Linked DNA regions of Homo sapiens: all the other regions are linked to region 1. Evidence: fine-mapped expression QTL. A gene starts in region 1. Each other region holds a variant in brackets. All regions are shown on one strand. Distances are from middle to middle.

What was found.
Region 2: its variant is fine-mapped to the expression of RNASE6 in whole blood (TOPMed, PIP above 0.99). The same link has a PIP of 0.9 or more in blood mononuclear cells and monocytes.
Region 3: its variant is fine-mapped to the expression of RNASE6 in whole blood (TOPMed, PIP above 0.99).

What each region holds. Positions count from the first base shown.
Region 1 is chr14:20,775,465-20,786,016 of GRCh38, reverse strand. It overlaps RNASE6 (ribonuclease A family member 6), which reads right to left and starts at 4,749. Exons shown (of 2, transcript NM_005615.5): 1 at 4,679-4,749; 2 at 3,550-4,322. The coding sequence starts at 4,317. The coding sequence ends at 3,865. All of the region lies in intron 1 of LOC107984671 (a long non-coding RNA gene), which reads left to right. RefSeq lists enhancers at 3,605-3,674, 10,479-10,552.
Region 2 is chr14:20,704,518-20,715,069 of GRCh38, reverse strand. LOC124903282 (a long non-coding RNA gene) reads left to right here. Exons shown (of 2, transcript XR_007064061.1): 1 at 1-1,989; 2 at 3,352-5,277. EGILA (EGFR interacting lncRNA) reads left to right here and starts at 8,129. Exons shown (of 4, transcript NR_174964.1): 1 at 8,129-8,323. The variant A/G (reference allele first, on the strand shown) is at 4,216.
Region 3 is chr14:20,716,625-20,724,416 of GRCh38, reverse strand. It overlaps the pseudogene RANBP20P. Among named protein-coding and RNA genes, the nearest start is that of EGILA, 14 kb to the right of the region's middle. The variant G/A (reference allele first, on the strand shown) is at 2,847.

The sequences.
Region 1 (10,552 bases):
GCCTGGGCGACAGAGCGAGACTCCGTCTCAAAAAAAAAAAAAAAAAAAAAAAAAAAAAAAAAAATCATTACTTTCCTGAGGCCCCAGTTCAAAATTCTCAGCCTGCCAGGTGTCGTCCTTCCTACTGAATTCCAGCCACCTGCCTCAGCCACAGCCAAAGGACAAGATCCATTGAATAGTCTAGAAGACCAGGAATCAACACACTTTGTTCTATAAAGGACCAGACAGTAAATATTTCACTTTTGTGGAACACATAGGGTCTGTGTCACTTCCTCTCCTTCTTCTTCCTCTTCTTCCCCTTCCTTCCCCTCCCTCACGTCTCTACTCCTTCCTTCTTCCTGTTCTTCCCCCCCTCCTCTTCCTCCTCCTTTTTCTTCTCCCCCTAAAAAAGTAAAAATCGGCCAAGCACGGTGGCTCACGCCTGTAATCCCAGCACTTTGGGAGGCCGAGGCGGGTGGATCACGAAGTCAGGAGATCAAGACCACGGTGAAACCCCGTCTCTACTAAAAATACAGAAAATTAGCCGGGCGTGGTGGCGGGCGCCTGTAGTCCCAGATACTCGGGAGGCTGAGGCAGGAGAATGGCGTGAACCCGGCAGGCAGAGCTTGCAGTGAACTGAGATCGCGCCACTGCACTCCAACCTGGGCGACAGAATGAGACTCCGTCTCAAAAAACAAACAAACAAACAAACAAACAAACAAACAAATTAGCTGGGCGTGGTGGCGGGTAATCCCAGCTACTCAGGCGGCTGAGGCAGGAGAATCGCTTGAATCCAGGAGGTGGAGGTTGCAGTGAGCCGAGATCCAGCCATTGCACTCCAGCCTGGGCGGCAGAGCCAAACTCCATCTCAAAAAAAAAAATAAAAGTAAAAACCACACTACTCCAGGCAGTATAAAATAGGCGCGGCAGGCCAGAGGTCTGCAGATGTAGTTTGCTTACCCCTGCATCAACAGTTGTTACCAATATTTGCTGCCCATTACAATTACATGGGGATCTTTAACAAACATCCATTAGAGCCCAGGTCTCACCCCCAGATATTCATTTAATTGTTCATTAAATGTTCATAAAATTTATTTAGTAGATCCCGTCATTGGTATTTTTCTAAAAGCTCCCAGGTGAATCTAATATGAAGCCAGAGTTGAGAGCTGCTAGAACATCTGCTGAATTCACTTCTAAGCTTTGCCTGCTTTGGGATCATTCTGTATATTCTAGGGATATATCTAAGTGAACTTCTTAGCAATTATGTATTGAACTTCTGCAATACATAACTGCATGTAGAAAAGAAAATAAATCTATGAGAGATTCCATCCCAGTCTATTCCACTTGTTTAGAACTAATACCTTCTAAAAGTTTGGGCATAATAGATTGTTGAAAAGTTACCCTCATTGTTGCCTTTTCCTTGATCAGCAACAAAAAGTGACTCTAATTGTTGTTGGGGATAGGTTTGTCATGGGAGGGTGGGGAAGATTAGATATTGTTGCTGCAAATCTCTTCAAAAGATGGCACTCATTATATTTTTGTTTTTAACCATTTGTTACAAAATATTTGCAGTATTTTAGACCTCACAATTTATTTCACTAATTTTAAGTAACATTTCATGTTCCCTAATGTTTCTGACAGTTGAAAAATTTTTGCAGCACAGATGTATTCAATCCATGAGATACCTTTACTATATAAATAACAATAGCATGAGCAATTGAGTTGTTTGGTTTTACTAGATTACCTTTAAGAATCTCTGGCAATTTCCAGGTAATGTTCATATAAATCCATTCAACCCCTTTCCTTTCAGATGCTGCTACTTTCGTATACTTGTTCATACCAAACGTGAGCACAGATTCTCCCTGCCATTCCACCACACTTTACATGAAGACTCTGAGACAATAAAATGTAAATGCAACATGGCTTAAAGCTGAATACAACTGAAAGCTGCTTTGAGTTAGAGCACTCAAGTCCCACTGTAGGATTCCCTCTATAAGGTACCCACCTTCTTAGGTGCCATATTGCCCTGACCTGCTAATCTCTTCCCAATGGGAGGGCCCTTGATCAGTCATCACCCTGGAATCCAGGCTCCTGAAACCTCATATTCCATTCTTTGTTCCTAAGATATGACATAAATGTGTAGCGTAAAGGAAGGTGAGCTGAGTTAGCATATCTATTAAACTAATAGTCTGGCTTGGAAAGAATCATTTGCAGCACAGGTAATGAAGACACTACAATATGTAGCCTTTTCAAAAAAACTTCATTGTCTTTGGCTGCTACTTGAAGACTCATCACTGTACAAAGCACTTGGGATTTACACTGGCCCACTAGCCCAATGACTCTAGAGGTTGACAAGGAAACTGAAGTTCCTTCTGTGAAATGGCTTAGTTCAGGTTCTGTTCCAAAACCCCAATACTTCTGTGGTATTTCAGTATTTACATAGGACTAGAATGTTTTTAGTTTCCTAGTGCTTTTTTCTCTTTCTTTCTTTCCTTTTTTTTTTTTTTTTTTTGAGACGGGAGTTTCGCTCTGTCACCCAGGCTGGAGTGCAGTGGTGCAATCTCGGCTCACTACAGCCTCTGCCTCCCAGGTTCAAGCGATTCTCTTGCCTCAGGCTCCTGATTAGCTGGGATTACAGGCTCCTGCCATCATGTCTGGCTAATTTTTTGTATTTTTAGTAGAGATGGGGTTTCACCACATTGGCCAGGCTGGTCTCAAACTCTTGGCCTCAAGTCGTCTGCCTGCCTCGGCCTCCCAAAGTGCTGGGATTACTGGTGTGAGCCACTGCATTGGGTCTCCTGGTGCTTTTCTCTTTTTCTTTTTTTGTTTTTGAGATGGGAGTCTCACTCTGTTGCCCAGGCTGGAGTGCAGTGACACAATATTTGCTCACTGCAACTTCTACCTCCTGGGTTCAAGCGATTCTCCTGCCTCAGCCTCCCGAGTAGCTGGGATTACAGGCACTGCCACCACGCCCAGCTACTTTTTTTGTATCTTTAGTAGAGATAGCGTTTCACCATGTTGGCCAGGCTGGTCTTGAACTCCTGACCTCAGACGATCCACCTGCCTCAGCCTCCTAAAGTGCTGGGATTACAGGCGTGAGCCACCACGACAAGCCTAGTGCTTTTTTCTTGATCTATGCTTTCTATTTATCCATTTCAATAAATAATGGAGGATTGACCCTAAGGTTACTACAATGGATTATTATCCCTATTACTACTACTATCACCTTATATTTAAAACATTATCTGATTAAAAACGGAAACAAATAGAAAAGACATAGGATCCTTCAGTTGCCAGTGACAGAATCTATGTGTGAGTTATCATCAACTGTCTTTGAGGTATCAGTACTACCTCCAATTAAGCATAGACAATGGTTTCCAGGGGAATATATAAAGTCATGAGCAGAGTTTGAAGAAATGCTCCAAAGTCCCAAACGCTGTCCTTTCTTGTGGGCAAGGAAGTGGGGCCCCAGGGAGGCCTCAAAAGTTTTCTAGGGACTTAAAGTCAAAACAGTGTTCCTCTGAGTACCGGTCAACAATGCTTTGAAAGCGGATCTCAAACACACACTCATTAGAATGCAGCAGGAAGTGGTTTTATTGCTGTGAACACAGGGCAATAAAGCTTGGCAAAAGTTGCAGGGTTAGAAATCTGAATCTTTCTTTGCTGTCTTCCCTATTCCCTTCTCTCGAAAAGTACAGAACTACAAAGCAGAAAATAATCTTATTTCTTTTTGTCTCAACTCTGGTCTGGCATCCTAGGCACTCGAATTCTCCAAACACCTTTCTTCTTTCTTCTACGGGAACAAGAAAATCAACAAAAGAAAAGAAAACATGGATGCAATTGTAACAGAAGCTATGTCAAATGAAAGGAAATGCAGTGGATGCCTTAGAGAATACTATCTAAGTGTACAGGAACCAACTTGTAGGGGGGATCGCTCTTCTGAGGGGGGTCACAGGCAACAATGAAGAATTTGTACTGGGCAGCAGCACTATAGCGGCACTGGGGATACTTTCCTGAAGTGAGTCTGCAGTCAGTCATGTTGACAGGCTTTGAGCTCTGGTGGCAGTTGTGCCGACGATTTTTGCAGACAATGCTGAGCAAATCACAGACAGCAGCCACATTCTGGAAAGAGTCATGCAGAAAGGTATTTTGATGCTTACAGTGCTGGGTATAATTGTTGATGCCACTCATTGCCCTGTTGCATTGGAGAGGACTTGGCTGTATATGCTGAATTTCAAACCAGTGAGCCTTGGTGAGACGCTTAGGCCAAGCATGAAGTGGACACACTGGTCCCCATAGAACCAGCAGCAGTAAAAGAAGAGGAAAGCATAGCACCATCTTTTCTGTGTAGAAAGAGAGAAGATAGTTATAGTAGGAGAAGCAATAAGAGCAAAATTTTTAATCATAACTATTTAGATTTTTATTTTGCCTTTTAAGATTTTACAGCTCCCTTTAAAATCTTCTTTCTCACATAGTCTCACAATTCTATGAAGAACCTGAAGCCCAGGAAACAGAAATATGACCTCTCCTTTGATTGGCATATCCCATTTTCTTTCACAAGTACTCATGCATTTGATGGCTGTCATATCAGAAAGTTTCTTCCCTCTTCCCTCCTGAAATATTTACCCTCTATCTGACCACTACCTCCCAGCCGTCTTTACTGCTCTACTCGCTCCAGCCCTGAGGCTTTCTTTCTTACCTGGTCTCAGTGTTGGGGCTCCTGCTGAGAACAGAGGCTGTGATTAGTCCAAAGCTCAGAAGCTGTTGTCTGCCTTTCTTCTCTAACCCTTCGAGCCCTGTGTGTATAGGGAAGGGGAAGAAATATTCTGAGCTTTCAGAAGGAGAATCCTAGGGTTTGGCAGATTAACTTCTTGTGCAGAGTCTGGATTAAACTCTTAGACTTTCACACCTGTTCTTTAAAACAGTATCATTATCACATGTATACAGGAAGGCTAAACCAACTTAAAGAAACAACATGACTGAAAACTCACAGTTTTGAGGAACTGATCACTTCCTGATATGGAATGAGTGCTTCCTGCCTCATCTGAGGCTTCAGTGTTTTTTTTTGAAGCTTTATGATTCCTGTTTCTTAAGAGAAAATATGTCACATAAATATGATATAATGCCTGCCACATACTTGGTAATGTTGTAAGTTCCTACAACAGAAGTGAATACATTATTCATTTATGCATATACTTATTGGGCCAGGTACTAGGCTACACAAATTCAGGAGCTCATGAGTTTTTTTTTTTTTTTTTTTTGAGACGGAGTCTTGCTCTGTCGCCCAGGCTGGAGTGCAGTGGTGCGATCTTTGCTCACTGCAAGCTCCACCTCCTGGGTTCATGCCATTCTCCTGCCTCAGCCTCCCGAGTAGCTGGGACTACAGGTGCCTGCCATCACGCCCAGCTAATTTTTTTGTATTTTTAGTAGAGACGGGGTTTCACTGTGTTAGCCAGGATGGTCTCTATCTCCTGACCTCGTGATCTGCCAGGAGCTCATGATTTAATGAAAGAGATTAGAGACAGGCAGGTAAGTATATAGACAAGTAGATTATATTAATATAAATAGCACTTACAGTGTGATGGAGGACACTGCAGGAGGCTACGGGAAGATAGTAGAGGGGAAGGATTGTTGGAGGGCACAACACCTGAACTGAATTTTGAGGAATAATTAGAAGTTAGGTGAAGAGAGTGTTAAGCGCCTCCCAAAGACAGAATTGTGTATGAAAAGACCTGTAAGCCTGAAGAAGAAGGCCGAATTTAGGATATTTGCCTCTTGAATCTGTTCTTACCTTTTCACTGGTACTGCAACACCCTTATTCAGAAACTCATTGTCTTATGGAGGGCTCACATAAAAGCCTCCCACATGGACTCCTTGCCTTGTTTTTTTCTCCTTCCAATCCATTCTACATATTACTTCCAGATTAGTCTTTTTTTGAACAAGATATAATAGTACAACACTCTTGCCCCATGCTTTTATGGCTCCAAATGTCTGCAGAATAAACATAATGTCTGTTTATAGCAAGGTTGCAGGATACAAGGTTAATATACAAAAGTCAGTTGCTTTCTTATATACCAGCAATGAACAATTGCAATTTGATATTTAAAACACAATACCATTTATATTGCACCAAAGAAAGTGAAATACTTAGGTGTAAATCTAATACATTATGTAAAAATTGGTATGAGGAAAAATTTAAAACTCTAATGAAAGAAATTGAGGAAGCACAGATATTCCATGTACATGAGTAGGAATACTCAATATGTTAAGATGTCATTTCCTCTCAACTTGATCTATAGATTCAGCACAATCTCAATCAATATCCCAGCACATTATTTTGTGGATAGTGACAAACTGACTCTGAAGTTTATATAAAAGTAAAAGATTCAGGTTGGACACGGTGGCTCACGCCTGTAATCCCAGCACTTTGGGAGGCCGAGGCAGGCTGATCACGAGGTCAAGAGATCAAGACCATCCTGGCTAACACAGTGAAACCCCGTTTCTACTAAAAATACAAAAAATTAGCCAGGCCTGGTGGCGGGCGCCTATAGTACCAGCTACTTGGGAGGCTGAGGCACGAGAATCGCTTGAACCCGGGAGGTGGAGCTTGCAGTGAGCCGAGATCGCACCACTGCACTCCAGCCTGGGTGACAGAGCGAGACTCTGTCTCAAAAAAAAAAAAGATTCAGAATAGTCAACACAATGCAGAAAAAGAAGAACAAAGTCAGAAAACTGACGTGACCCAACTTCAAAACTTACTATAAAGCTACAGCAATTAAGACAGTGTGTTATTGGTGAAAAATAGACAAATAGGTCAATGGAACCAAGTAGAAAGCCCAGAGGTAGACCCACACAAATACAGTGAACTAATCTGTGACAAAGGATCAATTTTCAATTGAGAAAAGTTAGTCTTTTCAACAAATGGTAGTAGAACTGAATGTACACATGCAAAAAATAAATCTTTTCATAGGTTAGACTTCATACATTTTCATAGACCTGTACTTTATATCTTTCACAATTTTTTTTTGAGATGGAGTTTCGCTTTTGTTGCCCAGGCTGGAGTGCAATGGCATGATCTTAGCTCACCACAACCTCTGCCGCTCAGGTTCAAGTGATTCTCCTGCCTCAGCCTCCGGAGTAGTTGGGATTACAGGCATGCACCACTACACCCAGCTAATTTTGTATTTTTAGTAGAGACAGGGTTTCACCATGTTGGTGAGGCTGGCCTCGAACTCCTGACCTCAGGTGATCCGCCCACCTCGGCCTCCCAAAGTGCTGGGATTACAGGCGTGAGCCACCGCGCCTGGCACAAATGTTAATTCAAAATGGACCATAGACCTAATGCAAAATACAAAACTACAAAAATTCTAGAAAATAACATAGAAGAAAATCTAGGCAGCCTTGAGTTTGGCAATGATTTTTTAGATACAATACCAAAAGCACAATCCATGAAAGAAAAATATTGATAAGTGGAACTTCATTAAAATTGAAAACTTCTGCTCTGCAACAGATACTATTAAGAGAATAAAAAGATAAGCCAGAGACTGAGAGAAGATATTTGCAAAAGATATATCTGATAAAAGAACATTATCCAAAATATACAAAGAACTCAAAAAACCTCAACCATAAGAAAACCAACAACCTAGTTGAAAAATGGGCAAAACATCTGAATGGTATGGGGCAAAGACAATTTTTCCTCTCCCTCTGAAGGTTCAAAACTTCTGAAATGAACTGACAATAGACAGATTAACAGGAGAAAAAGGCATACAAATTTATTACTGTGCATAATCATGGGAACCATACAAATTATGAGACTCAAAGAAAGACTAAATAGTTGAAATTCATGTATTCTCTTCATAGGGGAGAGGAACATGGGGAAAATGTAGGCAATTTTGAGGAGTTTTAAATATTTTTTAGGGAACTGGCCCCAAATAGCAGACAATAGTTTGTAAATGAGTCTCTTTGGAAGCTGAATGGAAGGGTGACGAGTTATGGGAAGGTGAAGGGTGGAACTGCACTATGAACAAAGGTTGCCTTATTATACAGATAAAGTCTCTTAGGTACTCTTTTGGAGCTGCTCTTGGAAGAATAGATGAAAGGTCTATCTGAGTGTGGTGTGAAGAGACTTCTAGTCTCTTCTTTTTTTCAGGTGGCTAATATTTCCTGGTTATCTGATGAGATTTTTAGAAAGGGGGGTCTTAAGACAATTGCATTTCTTGGAAGAAGTTTTCCTTATCCAGACAAGGGAACTTCCAGAGAGAGCTCCTCTCTGCATTTGAGAGCTGGGGGAGGAATGAGAGAAGATTAGAACATCTTTGGTCCTGAGGCAGCTTCTAAGAAGTTTTGGTTTCTTTAATTCTTTAATTCTAGTTAAATTTAATTCTTTAATTTAATTTCTTTAATTCAAAAGTGCTCAGAATGCCATGCATCATAGTTTGTAGTATGATTCTCTGTACCCCAACACTTCACCAAACAAGATATACAGATGGCAGATGAGCAATGAAAAGATGTTCAGCATCACATTGTTTGGAGAAAAACTTTTCCTCTATCATTTTAGGTTTTAAAGGTGGTGGTAAAGGAGCTTGTGAATTAGAAAAAGATTAATAGGAGAAAATTCAAAGTTTATTTACACATGCACACAGGAGTATTACATAATGCGTAACTTGCTGAATAGCCAGAGGTAAAGTTATATATCAACTTTAAAAAAAGTGTTTTTGGCCAAGTGCAGTGGCTCATGCCTGTAATCCTAACATTCTGGGAGACTGAGGCAGGAGGATCACTTGAGGCATGGAGTTTGAAACCAACAGCATAGCAAGACCCCCATCTCTATTTTTTAAAAAAAGATTTGGCCGGGCATGGTGGCTCACACCTGTAATCCCAGCACTTTGGGAGGCCAATGTGGGCAGATCACCTGAGGTCAGGAGTTTGAGACCATCCTGGCCAACATGGTAAAACCCCGTCTCTACTAAAAATACAAAATTTAGTCAGGCATGGTGGTGGGCACCTGTAATCCCAGCTACTCGGGAGGCCGAGGCAGGAGAATCTCTTGAACCTGGCAGGCGGAGGTTGCAGTGAGACAAGGTTGCGCCACTGCACTCCAGCCTGGGCAACAAGAGTGAAAGTCTGTCTCAAAAATAAAATAAAATAAAAAATAAAAGATTTTTGTTGGGGCTTCAAAAGGAAAATATGGAAGGTTCTAGTAAGCTTTCTGATGCTAATAGAAATGGGTAGATTGATTTCTTCCTGGCTGGAAGTTTCCCTGTATGGGGGTTTATGGAAGCTAATTTACACATCCCAGTGCTAAGGGGCTGTCTCGTTTCAAACAGGAAAATACCTTTGAAGGGGATCAATGGCAGCTGAATTTTCAAGAGGCTCTGGTTAAGTTTAAATAGTGTTTCTTTCTGCAGCTTCTGTCTGTTCAGACATTTTCAGTTTAAAATAATTTTCATGCCACTATCATCATAACAGATTTGTTACTTGATGCACAACAAATGGATATATTAAGAAAACAGGGATTGAAAAAGAGAGAGTTTAATTTTCATAGGGCAGCCAAATGAGTAGATGGGAGGTAACCTACAATTTGGTTTTGGGTTTGGGGATAGGGTTTTTAAGGAGTCTGGACAAGGGCCAAAATGTGAGCATTTCTGATTCATCAAGAAGTGAGAGGTGAAGTCATGGGACAGGGACATGAAGAAACTCAGCATTCATGTGCCAAGCCAGTTCCTTGGTAGGGGTCTTTAGACTGGTTAGCATTAGCTGTTGCACTGGAATTCAGGATCAGAAAAACACCTTAAGCAATTCTTAAGCAAAAAGATTTCATGATTCTAGTATTGGAGATTCTACCTATAGGAACAATCGGGGAGTAGGTGGTCAGCATGCTACTTGGGAAATTAGAAGCTACAGGGAAGTGGGTTGAAGTGTACCAGCATGCTATGATTAATGTGCAATTCTGCCTAGAGCCTGGCTTGCAACACTCCATAACTCTGCAAGGGCAGTTTTGCCATATTGGTGGGCTGTGAATCCCTTCAATCTGTCATTAGAAAATTGCAAATTAAAACAATGGGATAATACTACACACCTACATGAATGACTAAAATGCAGTGAAAACTGACATCATCAAAGCCAGTAAGGATGCAGAGCAGCAAAAATGCTAATTGACAGGACTTTCAACCTGGAGGCATATTTTGGGGTGACATATTCTTGTTTCCTATGAGACTTCAGTTAGGCTAGCTTGGATCTCATAACCATCGCTTGGCTCAGTAGAGGGGACTGCAGACCTTAGTGGACAGCCTCACCAATACTACACACAAAAGAGGAAGGGTAGATACCTAAGGAGAGTCAATATGCAGCTATCCAAATAAGGGGTGGACCACCGGGAAAGCCAGAGAAACAACACAAAGCTATTACTAATTGCCCTTAAATCTACTTTCCTCCTATACTATTTTGAACAACCATCTGCTAACCCTTTAATAAAAGCAAGTTTTAAAGAGTTACTTAAATGAGGTATTTGTGAGAATCTACTATAGGAGACCAGAATATGCCACCCCAAAATATGCTTCTTTATTATGAATAT
Region 2 (10,552 bases), 71 kb after region 1:
TCATGCTACCAGGCAGAGCAACAACTTCTCATGAGGATTAGCTGCTCGTGGCTAGCTGACCTCCCAGCTGGGATTCTAGGGTTGTCCCAGCAGCTGCCAAGAACATCTTTTCCCTCCTTCCCCCTCTGTGGCATCAGCTGCCTGCAATGCTTTATTAGTATAAGGAAAATGATAGTTGAGGAAGTTGACAGGATTCAAGACTGGGTAAATCAAACCAGTTTGCATGCTAGAAATCCTCTGTCTCTGCCATTTGGGCTTTATGCCATTTGGACCTGACACAGGTCTTTTGCAGTATCAGTTAGCCTAAGATTTATTAACTTCCCAGTCTCCTTCTACAGGAATTGGTTCAGGAGTACTCTGTGTTGATCTGTGTGTTTGTGTTCTTTTGATCTCTCCCCTGAGAATGGGCAACTTGACTTCCATTCCATCTAAGTGGCCATTGGGCTGTATATTGGCTTATTGGAAAGCTTATAGCTATGAACTCATAACAAAAAAGATAATGATTTTTTTTCATTGTAACACTGTTTGGCCTATGTATGTGTTGGAATCTGAAAAATGGTGGCTACTGAACAGTGATTTACATTAGTACACCTTATTACAGTTGGCGTTATTTTGCCTAAGATCTGGGAAATGAAATGAGATTCCATGTGTTTAAGCATTTATTACATAACAAAGACTCAGCACATGAGGGGTCTATGTGAATGACGTAGAGAAAAGGGAAAAAGAGATTTCTCTTTCCAGATAGTAAGACCCAAAAGGAAGAGGATATTGATGATATGGGCCTCATAAATATCTTAAATTTCCCCTCCCATGTGGTACTGGGGGCACCAGCCCTCCCAGGATTACCAAATGTAGCCCAGGACCCGGAGAGGCCAAGGTGTCAGCTCCTCTCCCCAGGATGGGGAAGGAATAGAAATGGCTGCTCCACTTGCAGATTTTACTTGGGACCCCAACAATGGAGGAATGGCCCTGTCCAGTCATTATAAAAAGCATGTGTTGGCAGGGTTAAAGAGAAGAATGTAAAAGAGCTTAAATAAAGCCAGGGCAGTTCTCCCAAAGGCAGATGAGAACCCCTGTGAATTTCTGGAGTGCATTTACCAGGTTTACCACAAGTGTATGGACTATGATCCAGAAGCTCCTGAGAATATGAGAATGGTAAACGTGACTTTCATCCAATATTAAACGAAAACTGCAGAAACTGGAGGGGGTATTTGGAATAAACCTTTCCCAACTGCTGGACATTGCCTTCAGAGTATATAATGCCAGGAAGGCCAAAAAGCTAAAGCAAGCCATGATATACTTGGAATTAGTGGAAAGAATGTATATCCGAAAAGGAAAAACCAGGCACAGGGAGGTGGCCAGAACAAAACTCTAGGTAATGATCAGTCTGCCCCCTGCAAGGAGGAAGGTCATTGGAAATCTGAGTGCCCCAAATTAAAGAAAAGACAGGGAAACCAGAAGAAGGGAGACACAGTGACAGAGAAGAAACATACTGGCTGATGGTAAAGCAGGACTGTAGCTCAGATAGTGAAGGAGGCCCAAATCTTTTGGAGCAGGTTGTAATTTCCCCACAGGAACCTCAGGTACGATTGACAATGGGGAACAAATTGATTGACTTTTTAATCAATACTGGTGTGACTTATTCAGGTAGAAACACTAAAGAAACTGAAAGTACTAGGAAAACAGTGCCTGTGATGGTTGTCGCTGGCAAGATGCAGCAAACAGCCTTTCTCCAGACCCTGGAGAGTCTGGAGACTGCCGGACACAGAGATCTGGAGCTGAGACACAGTTTCCTCTATATGCTGGAATACCAAATTCCTTTGCTGGAGTGAGATTTGCTTTGTAAACTAAATTGCCATGTGACGTTTTTCTCCAGAAAAACAACAACTTCATCTGCAGGTCCTGCCAGAGCAAGCTTTGCAGCTGCAGATGCTGCTCACACACCCCGAGGAAGAAAAAGAATGCCTCCTGCCAGCAATCTGTGAGCAAGTAAGTAGTCATGAGGGCAGATGGGACCACAGGTAGTGCTGAAAATACACAGCCTGTGTGCACAGAAATAAATGAAGGGGCTAAGGTATTCCCCAAACACAGTGCCCTCTAAAAAGAGAGGCTTTAGAGGGGATACAACCTATATTACAGAAGTTTCTAAAAAATGGACAAATATGTCCTTACAGATCTCCATACAATGCCCCTATCCTGACTGTTAAAAACCCACACTCAAATGAATATTGATTTGTACAAGATTTGGGAACCATTAATGACATTGTTCAAGACATTCACCCAACTATGCCCATCCTTTACACCTTACTAACTGATAAACCAGGGCAGTATGGGTAGTTTTCGGTATTAGACTTAAAAGATACTTTTTTTTTTTTTTTTTTTTTTGCATCCTGATTGAAGAGAGGGACCAGATGCTGTTCACCTTTGAGTGGCAAGACCTGGAAACAAAAAACACCTTCCAATATTGTTAGGCTGTATTTTCTTAAGGTTTTAAAAACTCACCCACCATCTTTGGCAAAATATTGGCAAAGGGCTTCAGAGATTTTCAACTAGATGATGGGGTTCTGCTAAAATACTTGGATGACTTGTTAATCGCAAGCCAAGACTATGAGAGGTGCCTATCTAACACTATCTTAATCTTAAATTATTTGATATAATACGGACGTAACATATCACCTCAGAAAACTCAGATTTGTAAACAAGAAGTGACCTATCTTGGCTTCTGACTAAAAACAAGGAAAGCAGAGCTTGATGTCCAACCAGAAACAGGTGATAGCAGCAATAAAGGCCCCTGGGAATGGAAGACACTGTGGGGGGTTTTAGGTGTGGCAGGTTTCTGCTGAATCTGAATCCCTAATTTTGGACTCATAGTCAAACCTCTCTACAAGGCTCTAAAGGGATTAGATTCAGGAGCCCTAAACTGGATGGCTGAATGCCTTCAGGCATTTGATACCATCAAAAAAAAAAAAAAAAATAGTGTCAGCTCCAGCATTAGGACTGCCCAATTCTTGAAAGCTATTTAGACTCTATATCCATGAAAACCAGGGCACAGGACAGGAAATACTAATTCAACTACGTGGGAATTCCCCACAACCCATAGCCTACTTTCCCAAACAACTGGAGCAGATTACCAGAGGATGGCCACCTTGTCTTCAGGCCGTGGCAGCTACGTGTGATATCTTACAGGAAGCAGAAAAATTCACCCTAGGACAGCCCATTACTGCATTTGTGCCTTATCAAGTGTTAACCTTATTGTAACAAAAGGGAGGTTACTGGATGATAGCGGGGCATATGGGCAAATACCAAGCCAGCCTATTAGATAACAGAAATGTTTTCTCCAAACCACCACAGTCTTGAATCCTGCCACCTTGCTCCCAGCCACTGAGTCCAACTATGAACTGGAGCATAATTGTTTAGAAATTCTTGATGCAGTCTATTCCAGCAGACCAGATCTGTCAGATCATCTGATGGCCACTCCGGACTGGGAGCTATACACTGACTGAAGCAGTTTCACAGAAGGAGGACAACGCCAGGCCAGGTATGCTCCAGTGACCCTAGACAAAGTAGTAGAAGCCTATGTCCCCGCTGCTGGTACTTCAGCACAAAAAGCTGAATGGATTGCTCTCATCAGGGCCTTAAAACAGTCTCAAGAGAAATGGGTAAACATTTACACCTACTCCAAGTATGCCTTCTTGGTAGTGTATGCCCGTGGGGTCATTCAGAAAGAAAGGGGATTCTTAACCTCAAGAAATAAAGACATTAAACACCTGCTGGAAATTTTAGCTTTGTCAGAGGCAGTTGTTCTGCCAACTCAAGTTGCTATTATGCACTGCCAAGGCCACCAAAAGGATGACTCCCCAATAACCAAAGGGAATCAAGTGGCTGATAAAGCTGCAAAGCAGGCCACTCAAGAAACATATTTACTTGGGACCTTAATACTCCATTTAAACTTGTCAGAATTTAAACTCCACTACACTGAATGAAATGAAGAATGCACACATGAGTGGACATTGACCAACACAGACCCTTGTTCCTCATGGAAAGCTAACACTCATGGGATATTACTCTCTGAGGCCCTGGTATACCCAGTCCTGAAAGACCTGCATGAGGGGACACACTATGGCAGAGATGGACTGGCTCACCTGGTGTAGCCATATCTCAAAGGGCCACACCTTCAAAAGATCATTCAAAAGATTATACAAGCATGTTATCTAT[A/G]TACCCCAAATGATTCAAGAACTGCATGCAACTCTTCCCAGAGGAGGATACAATACAAAGGAATATGACCATTCGAGGACTGGCAGGTTGATTTCACCCAGATGCCAAAAACACTGGGATTTATAAGTACCTACTAGTGTTTGTAGACACATTTTCTGGAAAGGTTGAAGCTTACCCGAGCAAGAGATTGAAGCCTATCCGAACAAGTCTGAGAAAGCTGCAGAAGTAGCTAAGGCTCTGCTAAAAGAAATCATTCCTCGATTTGGACTTCCTTACTCCATACCAAGCAACAATAATCCTTCTTTAATTTCTGAGATCACACAAAGGATAAGCCAAGCATTACAGATCAAATGGAAATGACACTCTTGTTGGAGGCCACAATCAACTGGAAAGACTGAAAAGATGATCCACATGCTAAAAAACAAAAACAAAAACAAAAACAAAACAAAACAAACAAACAAAAAAACCAAAAAAAACCCCTGGCAAAACTCTATCGGGAAACAGATTTAAAATGGTAAAGGGTTTTACCTATTGCCCTGCTATGGATTGGGGTAGCACCCTGAAGTGGGCTTAAATTAAGCCTTTTTGAAATTGTGTGTGGGAGACCCTTCTGAAGTTCTTGGCCAGGGACCCCACCCTTGGACTTAATAAATTAATCAAGAATTAAACAATATGTACAACAACTAAGACATAAATCACTAACCCTGCACAAGTTTGTTCTTTTTGTTCTTTCCAGTTTTATGTGTCTTACAAAAAAGCCCCTTCACCCTTTTCATCCAAGGATAAAGTGCCGCTAAAATCTTGGTAAAAACAAGGACTGGACCAACAACAGCCAGCCAAAAAGTGGACAGGTCATTATGATGTTTTATTAACTACTCATTCATCTGTTAAGCTGGCTGGAGTCAAACCACGCATACATCACATTTCGGTAAAAATCGCCCCTCCCCAACCTGACACAGCAGACAATCAACCTGGTTGGACTTGTGAGCCAACTGGAGAACTGAAGCTACTGCTTAAGAAAAATCTTTTTGTACTATAGGATTAAATTTCTGTTATTCTTTATCATAATGAGTAAACTTTTTTGACATCTGCTAAAACTAGTCTATTTCTACAGTGGGCATAACATTATGCAGATAGTCTACACTAAGATGCTTGCTGGGTATGTGGATTGCTACCCATCTCTAGCACTTCTGGGCTACTTTAGTGAGTATCACCCCTGCAGGGGACTGATTAGATACATTTACAAACGTATATGAAAAACTGTTCATGGGAAAATCAGGACCTTGGTAACTTAAGGTAATATTTTTTAAAAATGGCCTGGCATTAATATAACGCTTCAGAATCCAGATCCTGGAAAACTCTTCATTATAACCGGACTATCCAAAGGACCTCTGAGTATGCAATCCCTCTCTTAAAGGAGTTTTCCTAGATGGCCCCCAAGATTTTGGCTACTAATAACCATTACACGGTAGGTGAGTTTTTATCAAATTTGGGACGATTACCTCTGGATGATCTCCACTATTAGTCACTTAACCCAAATTGCCACTTCATGTTGGGAACAAAGGAATCACTCTTAGAATCATTGGCCGAATGTTACTAAAAATGTGGATAGGATGCCTCTACATCAATATGAACATTCTTTAGTGCTATATTAGACAAACCTGTTTACCACTGATTGGACACAGACCCAAAATTTGGTGGCTGGTCCCCAGTGGAACTCAATAGTTATGTGAAACTAATCTTCGGCCATGTCTACCTGATGGATGGATAGGGCAGTGCACGTTAGGACCCCCATAGGTCCGGGGCTGATTAACAAAAACCACCAGGCAGCCTGCACACTTTCCAGATGTGTTACACCAATGGACCAGGCCGGTTTTCCCTTCCTACGACCATCTCCTGTCCCTTGTTTTCCCCCAAGCAGGCTTAGAAAGCATCATCTGGCATATTGAGGCACTTACAAATTATAGCAAGTGCTGAAAGACACATTTAAGGGCATCTCATTAGTAACCTCTGAAATGACTATGATGGGAAAAGTAGTCTTGCAAAACCACATGGCCCTTGATGTACTCACAGCTGCTGGGAGGGACCTTGACCCATAATTGAAACTAAATGTTTTGTGTATATCCTAGGTAATTTGCGAAACATCTCCTTAGCCCTTCAAGACGTGCACAGACAAATCAATGCTATGTCTGACCCCACAATGTTCCTAAACCAGTGGTTATCTTCATGGTTTGGATACGGACCTACTTGGTGGAAAAAACTGCTAGTAGTTCCAGCTATGATTATAGGAATAGGTATATTCTCTATGGGTTATACTCTTGTTGCACCATATGTGTGATATTGCAAGATTGTGTTTTCCTTAATTGGAAAGGCTCCTAACTCCCAGGTCAATGATGCTGTAAAAAATCACTTCCATAAGTCAAGGAATGCATGAATACTTCCAACTCCAGGTAAATAAATTCCATTCTTCAGCTCCCTAGTGATGCCCTCATTCAGCAGGAAGTAGCTAGAAAGAAATTGACACCTGATCTCCCATAGAAATGAAACAGGAATTGGCAGTGGGGAGTTTGTAGCTGGAATAATCAGCCTGCTTCAATAATGAATAGCCTCACCCTTTGATTTATTCAGTATCTAGCCGTATCCTTGCTTAAGAAACCCAGGGGCTAATCTTGAAATAAACCGGGCATGAATTTGAGATTGTGGAATCCTACATTCTCAGAAAAATCACTGAGGGGGGTTAATCCATAAGCTAGTTGCAGTCATGGTGATGCCAGCCAGACCTCCAGGTGATCCGTTACTGAAGATAGCCATCAGAGTAAGACATGCAAACCTGCACCCTGCACCACTCCTGCTCATAGTTTCCATGCCTCCTACTTCTTAAAATCCCTTTAGCTAGCCTAAAATTTTGAAATAGTCTTTGAGGCGCTAGTCCACCATCTCCTCAGGTTGCTAGCTCTTGAATAAACCTGCTTTTCCTGCACCAACTCTTGTCTTGCAAGTCTTGCTTTTGAGCAGTGAGCAGTGATCAGCTGACCCTTAGTTTGGTTACACTATCACTCAGGAAATTCCAAGCATTTTAGAAGGTCTGTGGCAGGAACCAGGAACTAAGTTCAAATTTATTTTTTATTATACCACAGGTCCCAACTCCCATGACTACCTGGATGGTGACAAAGACGAATTATCTCTTCATCCTTCTTTCTCACTCTAAATATACACAGACATGCTATTAGGAGGGAAAACTTTCCCTCTACCAACTTTGGTTCAGTGGGTGGGAGCCTGTGAATTAACTATAGACAGGTTAGCAGGGGGAAAGAAAACAAGTTGTATTCATAACTTGTGGAAGCATTCAGATGAAGAGGCTTGATGAAGAGCTAGAGACAGAAGTTTAGTTATCAACTCATAGGGGAAAAGAAGGAGGGAGAAATGACTTCTATAGGAAAACAAATGACTTTTGGGAAAGACAAATAGAAGCTTTGGATAAAGTTTTACACAATTTTCTTGGAATATCTCCTGTCTGGGTGAAGTAATCCTCACACGGTTAACAAGAATCCTGGACAAAAATATAATTATGAGTAAGTGTTAATCAGGCTACACTTTGACCCACTTCCTTGTAACCAAAACTCACGAACACTAGCTACTGATAATTTGCATTCTCATTGTTCCCATAGATAAGATCTTTGACATTAGAATCATAAGGCTTTTGTTTAAGAATTGTTTATGCAGATCCTGAATTCCGGCAGAACAGCTGACACCACCAACTTTAAAGAGCCCAACTGATGAACTGATCAGCATGAGAATACTGTTTTTTCATCTCTCTGTCCCATGACTTCACTCTGCATTCTTCAACCAATTAGTGATCTCTTATTTCCACCTACTCCAAATCCTTAAAAACAACAGCCTCAAACTCTTTGAGGAAATGGATTTGAGGTTTCCTTCCATCTTTTGGTTCAGCAGCCCTGCAATTAAACCTCTTTCTCTGCTGCAACCCAGTGTCTTGGCATATTGACATGCTGTGCACATCAGGCAAAAGACCTATTACCATTACATGAGGACCCCTCCGGAGGGAGATAATGGTGGGGGCATTTCTGGGAGGCTCTGCTTTAGTCAGGTGAGAGAAGTTCAGGTAAGATTTCTTTCTGTATCTGCTGTAATTCAAATGTTTTCAGTTTTGTCAGTTTTGCCCTTAAACATGTGCACACACACACACACACACACACACACACACACTCACACTTCCCTTCTTAAGCAGCTAGCATCTTCATATATCTCTGCTCCTGTCATGTGCGTCCATGTGAAGAGACCACCAAACAGGCTTTGTGTGAGCTATAAAGCTTTTTAATCACCTGGGTGCAGGCAGACTGAGTCCGAAAAAGGAGTCAGCAAAGGGAGATGGGGTGGGGCAGTTTTATAAGATTTGGGTAGGTAGTGGAAAATTACAGTCAAAGTGGGTTATTCTCTTGCAGGCAGGGGCAGGGGTTACAAGGTGCTCAGTGGGGAGGTTCTGAGACTCATTGTCTAGGAGAAGGAATGTCACAAGGTTAATTGATCAGTTAAGGTGGGGCAGGAACAAATCACAATGGTGGAATGTCATCAGTTAAGGCAGGAACTGGCTATTTTCACTTCTTTTGTGGTTCTTCAGTTGCTTCAGGCCATCTGGATGTATACTTGCAGGCTTGGGCTCAGAGGTCTGACATTTCCTGTCTTCTTATATTAATAAGAAAAACAAAACAAAATAGTGGTGAGGTGTTGGAGCGGCAAAAATTTTGGGGGGTGGTATGGAGAGATAATGGGCAATGTTTCTCAGGGCTGCTTCAAGTGGGATTAGGGGCAGCATGGGAACCTAGGGTGGGAGAGATTAAACTGAAGAAAGATTTGGGCATCAAGGGTGATATTGTGGGGTTGTTAGAAGGAGCATTTGTCATACAGAATGATTGATGATGGCCTGAATGCAGTTTTGTATGAATTGAGAAACTGATCAGAAGACACAAGGTCTAAATAAGAGAAGGAGAAAAGCATGTATTAAAGGACTAAAAATTGGGAGGGCTCAGGACATCCAATTAGAGAGTGCCTAAGGGGGTTCAGCATAATTATTTGCTTGGTTGGTGAGTTTTTGGGCGCTATCCTTGAGTTTTTTTTATGTTGTCATATACTAGGCCAGAGTGATTTTGGTAGAAACAACACTCTTCATTTAAAAATATACAGAGTCCCCCTTTTTCAGCAGTGAGTAAGTCAAGGGCATATTCCTGTCTTCTTATATTAATAATAAGAAAAACAAAACAAAATAGTAGTGAAGTGTTGGTGTCATGAGGGGAACAGGAAGCTCTTGGGTCCCATTTGCAAGTTGATTTTTGGGGGTAAGGAAAACTAGTGTGCATGTGCCTGTCTAATTAACAGGTAGACACATGTAGGGGAGGAGCCACAGGGGAAGAAGAGACCTTGTGTAAGGCGAAACTGGAAATGTAAAGTGAAAAGATGAGAAAGAGAAAAACTGGCCATGAGGGACAGAAGTTGAAACGCCAGCTGCTTGTTTAGCTACCTTATTAGCATAAGCATTGCCCTGAGTGATGGGATCTGATGCCTTTTGTTGGCCTTTACAGTGAATGGCCTCAGTTTTCTTGGAAGTAGAGCAGCTTTAAGAAGAGGTTTTATTAAGGAGGCATTAATGATGGAGGACCCTTGTGTAGTGAGGAAACTTCTTTCTGCCCATATAACAGCATGGTGGTGAAGGATGTGGAAGGCATACCTGGAATTGGTATAGATATTGACACGTAGTTCCTTTGCAAGAATGAGGGCTCGAGTTAAGGCAATGATTTCAGCTTGTTGAGAGGTAGCAGAAGGGGGCAGGCCTGTAGCCTCAATGATAGATGTGGAAGATACTATAGCATAGCCTGCCTTTGCCAGTGATTGGCGATTGGACCTGGAAGAACTACCATCAATAAACCAAGTGTGGTCTGGGTAGGGAACAGGAAAGAGGAAAATATGGGGAAAAGGGGAGAATGCCACGTGGATTAGAGGGATACAGTCATGGGGCTCAGATGCAGTATCAGGAATAAGATGAGAGGCTGGATTGAAGTCTGGACTAGGAACAATGGTAATTGTGGGAGACTCAACAAATAGTGAGTACAGTTGAAGGAGCTGGGGCACAGAAAGTATACGTGTCAAGCGTGAGGAGGAGAATAGATTTGGAAAGTTACAGGAACAGTAGAGAGTAAGTGGAGCATAGCTTGTAATTTTGAGGGCTTCCAGAAGTATTAAAGCTGTGGCTGCTGCTGCATGCACACATGAGGGCCACCCCAGAATTGGGAGGTCAAGTTGTTTTGATAGAAAGGCAGCAGGT
Region 3 (7,792 bases), 60 kb after region 1:
TGAAGAAAAACAAAAGCAGAAGGCGAAAATTCTGCTGTCCACCATACAACAAAGTACCCAGGGGGCCAGAACCTATAAAGAACCCACTCTCCAGGCAATATAAAGGGTATGAAAGAGTAAAGCCAGGAGACTCAAAGGTAGAGAGAAAAAAAAAATCTTAGAGGAGACAGAAGTGAAATATAAAAAACAATCAGCTAGTATCAAATTTATGTTAATTCTGGAAACAGGGACAAATCTATTAGAAAGAGATTTAACGCTAAAATTAGGCTTAGGTCTCCAGATCAGTCTTGGAAAATTCCTCCCCTCCCTAAACTTGCTCACCACCACAGACAAAGAACACATTCATCCCGAGGTATGGTCAAAAGACGGGAATTGAAAGTTACAGATTCCTCTGATTCATCTTAAATTAAACACCCCTGGGGAAGTAGTAAAGCGAAAGCAATACCCTATTCCTTCAAAAGCCAGGGTAAATTTGAAACCTCTGATTGAAGGTCTTGTCCGTGATGGGCTTCTTGAACCCTGCATGTCTTCCTATAACACTCCAGTACTGCCTGTAAAAAGGCAGATGGCTCATACCGGTTAGGGCAAGACCTTAGAGCTATTAATCAGATACTCCAAGCTACACACTCTGTTGTTCCCAATCCTAATACTATTATCAGTAGGATCCCATACAGCCACCAGTGGTTTACAGTAGCAGATTTTAAAATGCTGTGGTCGGGGGCGGCCGTGCGGTACGAGCGAGCGGCTCCAGGGCGGGCGCGCTCAGGGATGCTCTAGGGGGCGGCGGCGGCAGCCGTGTGGGCTGAGGCGGCGAGGACAGCGCGGGCCCCTGGGCCTCTCCCCTGAGCCGGCTGCCCCGGCAGCGCAGCCAAGGCCCCGTCAGCCTCCGCCCCTTCAGCCTCCGGGCCGAGCCCGCCGCCACCTCTGCCCGCGGAGGCCGGGGAGCCCCCGCCTGCGCCCGCAGCCTCCCCCGCGCGGGGTTCGGGCCGGGCGGGGGTCCCGAGCTGCTGCCCTCCTCGCCAGCAATCGAGCCCCATTTCCTACTTTTTCAGTTTCCTTGTGGAGGGGCCGGTGGGTCTAGATGACTTGTCTCAGGGGCCCCCGATGAGGCGACCCAGGCAGCCCTGCCCTTTTTAGAGGATCCCCTCGGGGCCCGGGGGGGAAGGGGTTATCTTTGCATGGGTAGGGGACTTCCCTAGTCTGCCGGGACCATGACCTGAACTGGGCGAGTAGGATGTGTCCAAAGCCCAAGAACCAGCTCATCTGAGCCGCCCCCTCCCCGGCCAGCATGGCATCTGAAGAAGCCCCTCTCAGAGCATTGGAAAGGCTGATGACAGAACTTTTTCACGATGGTACGACCAATGAAAGAAAACGTGAGATAGAGGAGCTTCTTAATAACATTGCCCAGCAAATAGGAGCCTGGAGATTCTTCCTGTACTTTCTCTCCAGCACTAGGAATGGCTATGTAATGATGTACAGTTTAACAGTTTTTGAGAATCTGATCAATAAAATGTGGCTTGGGGTCCCATCTCAGGATGAGATGGAAATCCACAGCTGACTGCCCAAACTCCTTTTGGCTCACCATAAAACCTTACCTTACTTTATCCAGAGCAAGTTCTGCAAAGTTATTGTTGATATTGGACGTCAGGATCGGCCCATGTTCTACCATGACTTTTTTACTAACATTTTGCAGTTGAACCAATCCCCTGTGACAACCCCCCTTGGGCCGATCATGTTGAAGACAACTTCAGAGGAGCTGGCTTGTCCCCACGAGGACCTCAGTGTGGCTTGGAAGGAGGAGTTGCAGAAGCTGCCACTGGACCAGGTGCAGACAGTGCTTGGGCTGCTGACCGCTATCTTGGGGACTGTCTGGGACAAACACAGTGTTACTGCTGCCACTCCACCACCCTCCCCGACAGGAGAAAGTGGTGACTTACTGAGTAACCTGTGGCAGAGTCCTAGTTCAGCCAAACTGTTGAATCAGCCAATTCCCATCCTTGATGTGGTGAGTGAGTATATCTGTTCCCTTGCCTTGGAGTGCCTAGCCCATCTCTTCAGTTGTATTCCTCTGTCTGCCGGCATCACCCCATCCCTCCTTACCACCACCTTCCACTTTGCGTGATTTGGCTGTGACATCCGTGCCAGAAAGATGGCGTCAGTTAACGGCAGCAGCCAGAACTGTGTCTCGGTTCAGGAGCGGAGCCGGCCGGGGGTCCTGGCCATGCCCTGCATCAGTGAACTCATTTCCAAGAGCTGTGTGCCGATGGAGTTCGAGGAGTATTTACTGCTTATGTTCCAGCAGACTTTCTACCTCCTGCAGAAGATCACCAAGGATAACAATGCCCACACAGTGAAGAGCAGGCTAGAAGAGCTCGATGAGAGCTTTATTGAGAAGTTTACTGACTTTCTTTGGCTCTTTGTGAGTGTTCACCTAAGAAGAATCGAGTCTTACTCCCAGTTCTCTGTGGTGGAGTTTTTGACACTTTTGTTCAAGTACACATTTCATCAGCCTACTCATGAAGGTTAATTCTCTTGTTTGGATACTGGACACTCTTTTTGGACTATCTGACAAATAAAATTAAAAGTCATCTTGAAGACAAGGAAGCAGTTCTCAACAGGTACGAAGATGCCCTGGTGCTCCTCCCCACAGAGGTGTTGAATCAAATCCAGTTCAGATACAACCAGGCCAGCTGGAGGAGTTGGATGACGAGACTCTGGATGACGATCAGCAGATGGAGTGACAGCGGTACTTACGGCAGAGCTTGGAGGTGGCGGTCAAAGTGATGGAGCTCCTGCCCACGCACACGTTGTCCACACTGTTCCCAGTTCTTCAGGGCAATTTAGAA[G/A]TTTATTTGGGATTACAGCAAGTTATAGTTACATCAGGGTCAGGACACAGGTTGAACATCATGGCAGAGAACGACTGCTGGTGGCTGCACTGCTCCCTGAGAGACTTGAGCTCCCTGCTGCAGGCCATGGGCCACCTGGCCGGGTACTTTATTGGGGATGTGTTTGCTGCATGGTTCAATGATGCCCTCACAGTTGTGGAGAGTTTGGTCAAAGTCACTCTGTATGGATCTCAGATAAAGTTGTACAACATTGAGCCAGGTGCGGTGGCTCACGCCTGTAATCCCAGCACTTTGGGAGGCCGAGGTGTGTGGATCACAAGGTCAGGAGACTGAGACCATCCTGGATAACATGGTGAAACCCTGTCTCTACTAAAAACACAAAAAATTAGGTGGGCACGGTGGCACGTGCCTGTAGTCCCAGCTATTCGGGAGGCTGAGGCAGGAGAATCACTTCAACCAGGGAGGGAGAGGTTGCAGTGAGCTGAGAACGTGCCACTGCACTCCAGCCTGGGCAAGAGAGCAAGACTCCGTCTCAAAAAAGAAAAAAAAAAATTGTGCAACATTGAAACTGATGTGCCATCAGTATTGAAACCTGACCTCATTGATGTACGTGCTCAGTCCCTGGCTGTGCTGCAGGCTTACACTCACTGGTTAGTGCAGTATTGCAGTGAAGCTCACCAGCAGAACACACAGCAGTTCGTGACACTCATCCCTATTACCATGAATGCAATCACACCTCTAATCAGCACCAAGTTCTCGAAGCAGCAAAGCCTACCGTCTACACCTTTTATCTAACTCTGTCTCTCCTTCTGTTCCTATACCCATTTATTAGAAAATCTAAATATGACACAGAGTTAGACCCATAAATCTTTCCGCTTTATAAAACTGTTATTTCATCTTCCTTTTTACTTGTAGCCCACATGCATTCAAATACAACTTTACTTTTTTGGTTATATAAGTTCCACATGCTCACTGTGAAAAACCAAAATATTGTTCAGATTTCCAGACTAAAAAGTTGTGATACCTTTGAAACATTTTCCTTCAGGCGGTACACACAGTTGGGCATTGGTTGTGCAGGCACACCTCGTTTTGTTGTGTTTCCCTTTATAGCACTTCGTAGATACTGTGTTTTTTACAAGTTGAAGGCTTATGGCAACCCTGCATTGAGCAAATCTGTCAGCGCCATTTTTTCAACAGCATTTAGTGCTTCCATGTGTCACATTTTGGTAATTATTAGAATATTTCAAACTTCTTCTATGACTATATCTGACAGTAATTTGTGGTTAGTGATCTTTGATGTTACTATTGTAATTATTTTGGGGTGCCACAAACTGAAGATGGCAAACTTGATTGATAAATGTGTGTGTTCTGACTGCTCCACTGATTGGCGGCTTCCCCACCTTCCTGTCTTTAGGACTCCCTATTCCCTGAGCCATTTAGTAACCCTACAATGACCTCTATGTGTTCAAGTGAAAGGAAGAGTCACATGTCTCTTACTTTAAAAATCTAGAAATGATTAAGCTTAGTGAGGAAGGCGTGTCAAAAGCTAGGATAGGCCAAATGCTGTTGAGCCAGTTAGTCAAGTTGCGAATGCAAAGGAAAAGTTCTTGAAGGAGATTAAAAGTTCTGCTCTAGTGAACACACAAGTGATAAGAAAGCAGAACAGCCTTATTGTTGTTGACACGGGGAAAATTTCAGTGGTTCGGATAGACCAAACCAGCCACAACATTCTCTTATGCCAAAGTCAAAACCAGATCAGGCCCTTCAATTCTCTGAAAGCTGAGAGAGGTGAGGAAGCTACAGAAGAAAAGTTGTAAGCCAACACAGGTTGGTTCGTGAGGTTTAAGGAAAGAAGCCATCTCCATAACATAAAAGTGCAGGATGAAGCAGCAAGTCCTGAGGAGAAGCTGCAGCAAGTTCTCCAGAAGCTCTAGATAAGATCATTGATGAAGGTGGCCACACTAAACAACAGATTTTCAGTGTAGATGAGACAGCTTTATAGTGGAAGAAGGTGCCATCTGGGACTCCCATAGCTAGAGAGGAGGAGTCAGTGCCTGGTTTCAGAGCTTCAGAGGGCAGGCCAACTCTCTTGTCAGGGGGCACCTGCCACTGGAGACTTCAGGTTGAAGCCAGTGCTCATGTATCATTTGAAAATCCTAGGGCCCTTAGGAATTATGCTGAATCTACTTTGCCTGTCTCTATAAATGGAACAACAAAGCCTGATTGACAGCACATCTGTTTACATCATGGTTTACTGAATATTTTAAGCTCATTATTGAGACCTGCTCAGAAAAAAAAGATTCCTTTCAAAATACTACTGCTGATTGGCAATGCACTTGGTTACCTAAGGCCTCTGATGGAGATGTTCAAAGATATTAATTTCCATAGTTTCCATGCCTGCTCACACAACATCCGTTCTGCAGTTCTGCAGCCCATGGATCAAGGAGTAATTTTGGCTTTCAAGTCTTATTACTTCAGAAATACATTTCATAAGACTATAGCGGTCATAGATAGTGGTTCCTCCAATGGATCTGGGCAAATAAATTGAAAATATTAATTCAAATAATGGAACTCATTTCACTGCACATATCATTAAGAAATTAGCCCAAGCACTAGACATAACGTGGGAATACCATACTCCTTGGCACCCACCTTCATCGGGAAGAGTAGAAAGAATAAATCAAACCGTGAAGAGTCACTTAACCAAATTAGTCTTAAAGACTCAGTTGCCATGGACTAAATGCCTTCCCATTGCCTTGCTAGGAATCTGAACCACCCCTCAAAAAGATGTTGGCCTATCCCCATATGAGATGCTATATGGGTTGCCCTATTTACACTCCACTGCTGACATTTCCACCTTCGAAACAAAAGATCAGTTTCTCAGACATTATATACTTGGTTTATCTTCCACTTTCTCTTCCCTTAGAACTAAAGGTCTTTTAGCACAGGCACCATCCCTGGAGTTCCCAGTACATCGAAATCAGCCCGGGGATCAAGTCCTCATCAAAAACTAGAAGGAGGAAAAGCTGGAACTGGCCTGGGAAGGACCTTATCTAGTGCTCCTAACTACTGAAAGCGCAGTCCAGACAGCAGAAAAAGGATGGACCTATCACACCCAAGTCAAGAAAGTGCCGCCCCCTCCAGAGTCGTGGGCCATAGTCCCAGGGGAAAACCCTACCAAACTAAAGCTAAGAAATTTTTTTTTTTTTTGAGACAGAGTCTTGCTCTGTTGCCCAGGCTGGAGTGCAGTGGTGCGATCTTCACTCACTGCAACCTCCACCTCCCGGGTTCGAGCAATTCTCCCGCCTCAGCCTTCCGAGTAGCTGGGATTACAGGCGTGTACCACTACGCCTGTATAATTTTTGTACTTTTAGTAGAGATGGGGTTTCACCATGTTGGCCAGGCTGGTCTTGAACTCCTGACCTCAAACGATCCACCTGTCTCGACCTCCCAAAGTGCTGGGATTACAGGCGTGAGCCAAGCTAAGAAAAATTTAACTCTCTTATTACTCCTTCTTCTTTCCTCATTCTATTGCTGACCACCTCATTATTAATGTAACAAAGTCAATTTCACCTCAAACTATTACATTTGATGCTTGCCTTGTTATACCTTGTGGAGACTTGTCAAGTTAAAGACAGCTCTCCAATTCAGAAAAGTACCTCTGTCCTTCCCGGCTCTCCTCAGACTGGACATTAGTGAATGGGGATCATTTAGTCTGGAGAGATTTCAATAAAGACCCCAGTATCAGCTGGGAGTCTTGCTCCTGCAAGACAGAGCTTTTATGCCACAGTTGGTCCAACATTCTGTGGACCACTAAAGAGCAAGGATGAGCTGCCCCAACCAGTGGTTGTAATTTCCTAAAGTCATATATTCACTTTACTAAAGGAACAGCTTCACCTAGCTGTCAGCTGAACCGTGCAATCCAATACAGGTTATTATCTCAAACCCTCAAAGCTCTTCCCCTTCTCTAAGCCGGTTCCCTTCTTTAAGCCGGTTTTATGGTGTGGGGGCTGAGGTTTCAGGAACAGACCCTATCAGATCCTTTGAAACACAATTCATTGATCCTCTGCCGCCTACACCTTCCCTTAAGCCTTCTTCCAGAAGCTCTCACAACAAAACTGTTGTTCTCCTCCATCTAATGACAAGACCAAGGTAGTTATTATAGAAGTTAAAGACCTAAAACAAACTTTGGCAATTGAGACAGAATATCAAGATGCTAATGCCTGGTTGGAGTGGATCAAACATTCCATCCACACTTTAAACAAAAGCATTTGTTATGCTTGTGCGCACGGCAGACCAGAAGCCCAGATTGTCCCCTTTCCATTAGGATAGTCCTTTAGTCTACTAGGCATGGGCTGTATGGTTACTTTTTTCCAGGATTACACAGCCTGGGGTAAAAAGTCGTGTCAAGCTCTCTCTGCTATATCCTGAGGTTCAATACCCTGCAGGTCAGCCCCCAAGGTCCACTCAGCTTCTGTCCCCTGACGCTAAGTTCACTTCATATCTCTCACTACAGGGAGGAAACTTAGCATTCCTTGGAGACCTAAAAAGATGCAGTGAGCTTAAGACTTTCCAAGAGCTTACCAATCAGTCAGCCCTTGTTCATCCCCAAGCATATGTATGGTGGTATTGTGGTGGACCTTTACTGGACTCTCTGCCAAGTAACTGGAGCAGCACTTGTGCTCTAGTTTAATTGGCTATCCCTTCCACCCTAGCATTTCATCAACCAGAGAGAGGAAAAATACAACATCATAAAACAAGGGAAGCTCCTTATGGGTCTTTCAACTCCCACATTTATTTAGATGCAATTGGAGTCCCATGAGGAGTACCAGATAAATTTAAAGATCAAGATTAAATAGCTGCAGGATTTGAGTCAAGATTAAATAGCTGCAGGATTTTGTGGGTGACAATTAATAAAAACATAGATTGGATAAATTACGTCTATT